Homo sapiens: one gene and its partner. The protein of the gene in region 2 interacts with the protein of the main gene of each other region in a biochemical or structural test. Each region holds a gene or a part of one and is shown on either strand. Other genes may lie near its edges.

Region 1 (3,679 bases), on a different chromosome or scaffold from region 2:
CAAGGGAGAGTGAGAAAAATGTGCTTTTGGGGATGCTGAGCCCCGAAGCTTCAGGTGCCTCCAGGACTGCCCGGCTAGCCTGAGGGCTGGGCTCCTACACTGTGGGGCTGGGCCAGGGGATCCAGGCACGTACCTTCTCATCATATACAATGCGAGGCCTGATCTCTGGGGCCTGGTAGCCAGGAGTGCCCTCCACGCCTAGGGCGCCCTCATGGAATGACTGCCTCGAAATCCCGTAGTCAGATAGCTTGATGTTGATGTGCTCCTTGACGTCAAGGGACCACACCAGAATGTTGTCCGACTTCAGGTCACAGAAGATGATGTTTTTCTTGTGCAGGTAGGCCAGGCCCGAGGCGATCTGGTAGGCTATTTTTTGGGTGAGCATGTGTCCCAGGGGTATAAAGGAAGAATCTTGCAAAGAAAAACAATTTTCAAATGTATCAAAATTTCAGTTTTGATAGAATCAAATTATCATGATAACAACTGTCTTTTTGTCTTCCGATCTCCCTAGATACTTTATGATTTTTTTTCTTTTTTCTTTTATTGAGACAGAGTCTCCCTCTATCACCCAGGCTGGAGTGCAGTGGCATGGTCTTGGCTCACTGCAACCTCTGCCTCCAGGGTTCAAGCAGTTCTCCTGCCTCAGCCTCCCAAGTTGAGTAGCTAGGACTATAGGCGCGTGCCACCATGCCTGGCTAATTTTCGTATTTTTAGTAGACATGGGGTTTCACCATGTTGGCCAGGCTGGTCTTGAATTCCTGGCTTTAAGCGACCTGCCCGCCTGGGCCTCCCAAAGTGTTGGGATTACACATGTGAGCCACTGCGCCTGGCCCTTAGATACTTTATATTCCATTGACACATTCTCACTATTCACCAGACTGCCATAAAGGACAGAGAATGGCCTGGTTAAGTGAAACAGTATTTAGGATAGAAATGCTCATCGCTGTAGCTTCATTCCTGATATCTTATTCCTGGAATTGCTGGCATTTTGCTGAATGAGCAAGGGTTCGAAATCTCTAGAGTTCACCTCAGGTCAAGGCTGTCCTACGTAAAGGGGTGAGAGGCAAGTAGAAGCATTTTGTTTGGCTGGGCGTGTGGCTCATGCCGGTGATTCCAGCACTTTGGGAGGCTAAAGTGGGGGGATCGACTGAGCTCACAGTTCGAGAACGACCTGGGCAACAGGGTGAAAGGCCATCTCTACAAACAACAACAACAAATTAGCTGGGTGTGGTGGCGTGTGCTTGTAGCTACTCGGGAAGTTGCGGTGGGAGGATGGCTTGAGTTCAGGAGGTCAAAGCTGCAGTGAGCTGAGATTGCACCACTGTCCTCCAGCCTGGCCAACAAAGTGAGATCCTGTATTAAAAAAAAGTAAAGAATTCTGTTTAAAAAATTATCTTCCATTGAGGCAGAAGTGATTGATTTTCATAGCATTTCTTCTTCCTTAGTCAAAAGACAGCTACCTTTCACCCTCTGGCCACTCTGGAGTTTAGCTGCTCTTTTCTCAAGGTAAATTACTTCGACATTTTATGTTAAAATATGGTCCCACTGACCCTGCGGTCTCAGAGTCTCAGCAGCCGTGTACGTGTGCAGTTGGGAAAGTGATTCAATGCAGCTCCCGTGCTCGGTGCCCTCCCAGCGAGGCCTGTTACCATCCTCCTTTTACAGGCAAATAAACTCAGCGGCTTTCCGGACCGCGGCAGAGCCTGGTCTTAGCCGACTCCAGAGTGTGCGCTCCCCCGTCCTCGCCAAGGCTCTGCCTAGTGACTGGACCTGGCGGGGAGCCTGGCCTCGCAGCCAGGGGATGGTCACACGAGCCATGGGTTGGGCGTGCCCTGGGCTTGCCAAGGCCACCTGAGGCTCTACCCCCCGTGCCAGGCAGGAGGCGCCCGGGGCTCTGTCGGTCTCCGGGGCCGGGTGGGGCGGCGCGCCGCGGTACCTCTGGCGTTCTCGGACAGCACGGTGTTGAGGCTGCTGAGCGGCGCGAGCTCCAGGGCGAAGCAGAGCGGGTGGATGCTGATGCCGATGAGCGCCACGATGCAGGGGTGCTGCAGCGCGTGCAGCATGCTGGCCTCCTGCCGGAACTCGGAGAAGTTCTTCATGGCATCGGTGGCCCGCAGGTGCCTCAGCATGGTGTCTGCCAGGGACAGCGCAGTGTCAGCCAGTAGGACATGGGGTGCCTGCAGCCTCAGGCCTCTCTAAGGCCGCACAGAGCTTAGACCCGGGCAGCATATGTCTGAGAAAAACAGCACCAACCTGGGACCCGCTTACCTGCCGGTACGTTAGCAAAGTTCTTGAATTTTTTGATGTGGAAGCGCTTGACGGCCACAGGCTGGCCCTGGTACCGGGCCCGGTAGATGACGGTGCCACTGCCGCCCTGGCCCAGGACGCTGCCCTCGTCCTCGCTGTGCTCCAGCTTGCTGTTCTCCAGGAAGAGCCTGCCACACACGCCCGGCATCAGCCACATCCCCCCCGCCCTGATGCGGGTGGGTCCTGGGCTGGGTCATTTGCCCCAACGGCCGAGAGTCATGGTTCAAAGCCATCTGTGAGGCTGGACAGATCTGGGCCACCCCGGCCCTGCCACTTGTGGGTGAGCACACCTGGGTAGGTTATGCAGGCTTGCTAAGCCTCAGTCTCCTCTGTACAGAGGGCTCTCAGGACAGGAACGGCCTCAGAGGTGGTGATGGCTGGCACAGGGTGAACCCCACAGAAGTGGTGGCCGTAGAGAAAGGACCCCTTTGGAAGTTTTCTTCTGAAAGGTGACGTTTCCTATTTCCTCCCCGATTCTCTCTCTAGTTATGATCTTGGGTTAGCATAGGTACAATAAACTCTAAGAACAGATTTGAGGGGTCCAAGGCTCAGCGCTAGGGCTACAGACAGGAGTCAGCGTTTGACAAAGAAGGTAAACGAGGCTCTGGGTGGGAGCTCAGCGCTAGGGCTACAGACAGGAGTCAGCGTTTGACAAAGAAGGTAAACAAGGCTCTGGGTGGGAGCTCTCCCTTCTCTCCCCTTCCTGAATGCTTGAGGAGCACTGGCTGCACTTATCTGCTGGCCCTAGAGCTGGTGGGGAGGTAGGAGTGGAAAGGAGAGGCAGCTCAGGAGAGAGCAGCTCTGGCTACGAGGGGAAGGGGGAGCCGTATGGGGAGGCAGGATGGCTGCACTTGCAAAGCACTCTTCCCAGTTGGGCCTATCAAGGCCTCCAAAATGGAAAGCCGGCAGCCTGGTTCCTTTCAGGCAGCCGAGGATGGGAACCTAAAAGGTACTGAGATTGGTGGGAAGCCATGGCCGGGGCACCTGCCCGCCCCAGAGGGGTCTTCCTGGAGATCACTCGGCAACTGCACAGCGAGGAACGCCCCCTGTGACCTGCACTGTGTTCTGGGAGGGGCCTTCGGGGCATACCTGGCCGGGAAGTCGGTCATGAACAGTTCAGGGACCAGCTCCTGCAGCGGCACGGGGAGGTCCGGGTGTCTGGGGCAGGAGATGAAGTCCCGCTCGATGGCCGTCAGGACACAGTCTTCCATGTCGAAGTACTGCACATCCTCTGATTTCTCACTGGGGTCCGTGTGCTGGGCCCAGGCTGTCTCGCAGACCGGGCAGGGCACGTACTGCTCCATGAGTGGCGTCCCGTCGCTCTCTGTGGCTGTCAGGGCTAAATAAGGACAGAGCAGGAGACAGCTTCACA
Region 2 (3,500 bases):
TAAGGACAAATGTAATGCTGCTCATCCTCCCGCTCTTACCCGTGGCAGACATCACTAATCAATCATGTGCTTTTTTTCTGCTGAGTTCAGATATGACCTTAACATCCTTTCCAATGCAGCACTCTAGGCAGCCACGACCAATGGATTGGAGTTGGCATGCAAGATGACACCTCTTTGCCATCCTTGCAATAGATGATGGCTGAGCTCCTTTCCAGCTTTGAACACCTATGGTTTATTCCATCCACATTTCTTGAGAAGTGTGCCAGGTGTGTGTGAAGGTCTCTGGACCTGATGCTCCAAGTTATCCTCACCAAGCTCAGACTTACCGCCTACTGAGGAGGCCCAAGGGGAAGCCATGCCTGTCCTCTGTCCTGAAGCACCTGTCTAGAAAGATTGTGGGGGAGGGTGTGTCTCCAGGCGGGTGGGGGCTGGTGGGGCAGGGGAGGGCCTTGCCCAATCACAGAGTTCTCAGAATGCAGCTGGGAGCCACCTGTATTCTGCAGAGAGAAGGACAGTTCTAGGTCACACCCTCTACCCTCTGCCTCCTAGGTGTACTTGCAGTCTCAAGACATCTGATCTGAACAGACTTTGGCTTCCAGAGAGGGTATCTAAACTCCTCTCATTCATTAATTCAACAAACATCTCCTGAGCACCTGCTCTGTGCCAGGCACTGGGCTGGGTGCTTTGGAAACAGATGGGTAAGTCCCAGCCCCTCCCTTCAGGGAACTCACACTCTAAACTAGGGAAGGGACAGAGAGAAGGAGATGGGAGGAGATGGATGTCTCAGGTGATCAGTGGCATGGCAGGTGTGTGTAAGGCACAGGGGGTGGCCTCTGAGAAGGGAAAGCTGGTCTTGAAGGATGATTAGAAAGTTGCCAGGCAGCGGGAGGATGAGGTTGCAGGAAGTTGCTATAGGCAGAGATACTGGCGGGTGCAAACCCCAGGAGGCTTGAAACCACTTGGTGAGTTTAGAGAAATGTGAATCATTCTAGGAGAATGGGAGTGGCTGGTGGTAAGGCTAAGGAGGTGAGACCCCCCACCCAACCCAAGTCTAGAGTGCTTCATGGGCCAGGCAGCTGCTTCAGCAAGACCATTCTGGCTCTTTGGTGCAGAGTGGATCAGAAGTGGCAAGAATGGTGGTTAGGAAACCAGTTAAGAAGCTCTTGGGAGCCAGGTGAGGTGGCTCGAGCCTGTAATCTCAGCTGAGGTGGGAGGATCACTTGCACCCAGGAGTTCAAGTTTGCAGTGAGCTATGATTGTGCCACTGCACTCCAGCCTGGGTGACAAAGCCAGACCCCAATGATGGGGGCTGGAGCTGGGGGAAGGAAAAATATACTTAGGAAGAGATCCAGCAGGAATGAGTGGCTTACTGGGGGAGTAAAGAGGGAGCTGTGCTGAGGGAGCCCTGGGATTCTGGCTTGGCTAGCTGGGTAGCTGGAGAGTTAGCAATCAGGACAGTGAACATGGGACCGAGCTGTTTGGAGGGCAAGGGTGAGAGCGCTGTTGGCCGTGTTGAGTTTGAGGGGCTCAGGGATGCTGGGGGGAACTGACCAGAAGCTTGGAAAAAAGTTTGGACGGAGATATGGACAGGTGACGTTAGCTCTAGGACAGCAGACGTTGGCAGGGGTGTGGGTGAGCGCGAGCAGGCTCAGGCTGAGCAGGGAGCCTGGGGCACCAGCAAGGAGGGAGGATGGGGAAGGGTCTGAGGAGGGAGGCTGGGGAAGGGCTTTGGGAGGGCCGCAGAGGCCGAGGGAGAGGGTGGGATGGCTGCTGGGGCTAACCCATGGCATGAGGTACTGACTTGAAGGGTAGGCAAGAAGACTTAGGGCTGGGGAGAAGGAAGAGGGAGACAGGGAGTACACAGAAGCAGGCTGGGAGAGCAGGGTCCCCCTCCCCTGAGCTCACTGAGATGACATAAGGGAACCCAAGTGCTCTTTTTCTCCAGGACAGCAGGGCCGTGAAGGCCAAGGGAGAGAGCCAGAGAGGCACGGGGTGGGGTCAGCCCCAGGTGCGTCTGAAGAGGGCCTGCAGGACAAGATGGACGCAGATCAAAAAAGCCTCGATGTGGGAGGTGGAGGGGCACCCTGCCTGGGGGCCTCTGTTTTCTGTGTGAGATAGGAGGGCATGGGGGCTTGACAAAGATGAGGTCTGAGCGACTCTGGGGAGAAGAGGGGGCAGCCTCTGGGCCTGGAGAAGGGAGGCTGGTGCCTGGATCATTCTGTTCTTCCCACATCACCTCACACCTCTGCCCCTTACCCTGCCCCAGGCATCCACTCTGAACACCTTCTTCACCTTCCCCCATCTACCTGCAGGGAGACCTTCTTGCACCTACCTTTCCCTGCATACCCATTTACCTGGCCTCCTGGGACAGGCCTGGACCAGCTCTTCCGTAGGACAGGGTGCCCAAGGGTGGCGGGTAGGCCCTCATCTTCCACTTCCACATAGATGTTGCTGGGGGCTTCCCCAGGGCTGCCCCGGCCCATGGCATAGAAAGCTATGGGTTCATCAGGCTCATTGTAGATAGGATTGGAGGGCTTGGGGCGTGGGGCCGGGCGGTGTCGTGGAACAGGGATTGTGTAGACTTCTGGGGGCAGCTGAGGTTTGGCGGGGATGGGAGGCTTGGGCCTGAGCAGCTGGGAGGGCTGGGAGAGAAGGTGAGGCCAGGGAGGAGTGGGGTGAGGGAGGCAGGGTTAAAGCCCCAGCCTAACTCCCAGCCTGAGCCTCTGCCCCCGCTAGGCCCCTCCTCCTCCCCGCTGCCTGCACCCCCTCGCAGGCCTGTCCTCCCACTCCCTCAGCCCCTGCAGCCCAATACCTCCTTCTCCCCGGCCCCCTCTTTCTGCATCGGGACTGGGGCTTGCCCCTGTTTGATGATTGGGCTGTACTGGGGGTTTGGGTCCTGGCTTTTGCTTCCAAAGTTTGATTCTTCGGTCCTCAGGGAAAGTCCTGCAGGCTCAGGAGTCTGCTGGGAAAGAAGGAGGTCTGAGGCACTCGGTGGAGCGTTGGGGTGGGGGAGGTGATCAGGAGGACAAAATAATCCAGTCTAAGTGGAGGATGGGGGAAGGGGGAGGAGCACAGAAATTTGGCCTGGGCTGGGTTCCCTGGATGAGGAAGAGGGGGTGGTGACGGCAGGGAGACCCAGGGTTGGATGGAGGCAGTGGTAAGCTCTGGTCACAGGCCATATCTAGCATTAAAGTTTTTCTTTTTTAAGATAGAGTCTCACTCTGTTGCCCAGGCTGAAGTGTGGTGGTGCAGTCTCAGCTCACTGCAGCCTTGACCTCCTGGGCTCAAGCTATCCTCTTGCCTCAGCCTCCCAAGTAGCTGGGACTACAGGCATGTGCCACCACACCGGCTAATTGTGTTTTCATTTCTTGTAGAGATGAGGTCTCACTATGTTGCCCAGGCTTGGTCTTGAACTCTTGGGTTCAAGTGATCCTCCCACCTCAGCCTTCTTGCGTCTTAGGATTACAGGCGTAAGCCACCACACTTGGCTGCATTAAACT

What was found. Proteins that work in one complex are often made in the same cells at the same time.
Region 1: the proteins of SH2D2A (region 2) and LRRK1 form a complex in vitro, tested with the Homo sapiens proteins (one large-scale study listed by BioGRID).

What each region holds. Positions count from the first base shown.
Region 1 is NC_000015.10:101,051,678-101,055,356, reverse strand, and holds part of LRRK1 (leucine-rich repeat serine/threonine-protein kinase 1), read right to left. Parts: exon of another isoform or gene 3,647-3,679; coding exon 3,397-3,646; exon of another isoform or gene 2,968-3,396; intron 2,900-2,967; exon of another isoform or gene 2,436-2,899; coding exon 2,269-2,435; intron 2,135-2,268; coding exon 1,937-2,134; intron 412-1,936; coding exon 134-411; intron 1-133.
Region 2 is NC_000001.11:156,806,849-156,810,348, forward strand, and holds part of SH2D2A (SH2 domain-containing protein 2A), read right to left. Parts: intron 2,960-3,500; coding exon 2,813-2,959; intron 2,643-2,812; coding exon 2,355-2,642; coding exon of another isoform or gene 2,289-2,354; exon of another isoform or gene 498-2,288; coding exon 330-497; 3' UTR 327-329; exon of another isoform or gene 1-326. UniProt on the Homo sapiens protein: Could be a T-cell-specific adapter protein involved in the control of T-cell activation. May play a role in the CD4-p56-LCK-dependent signal transduction pathway. Could also play an important role in normal and pathological angiogenesis.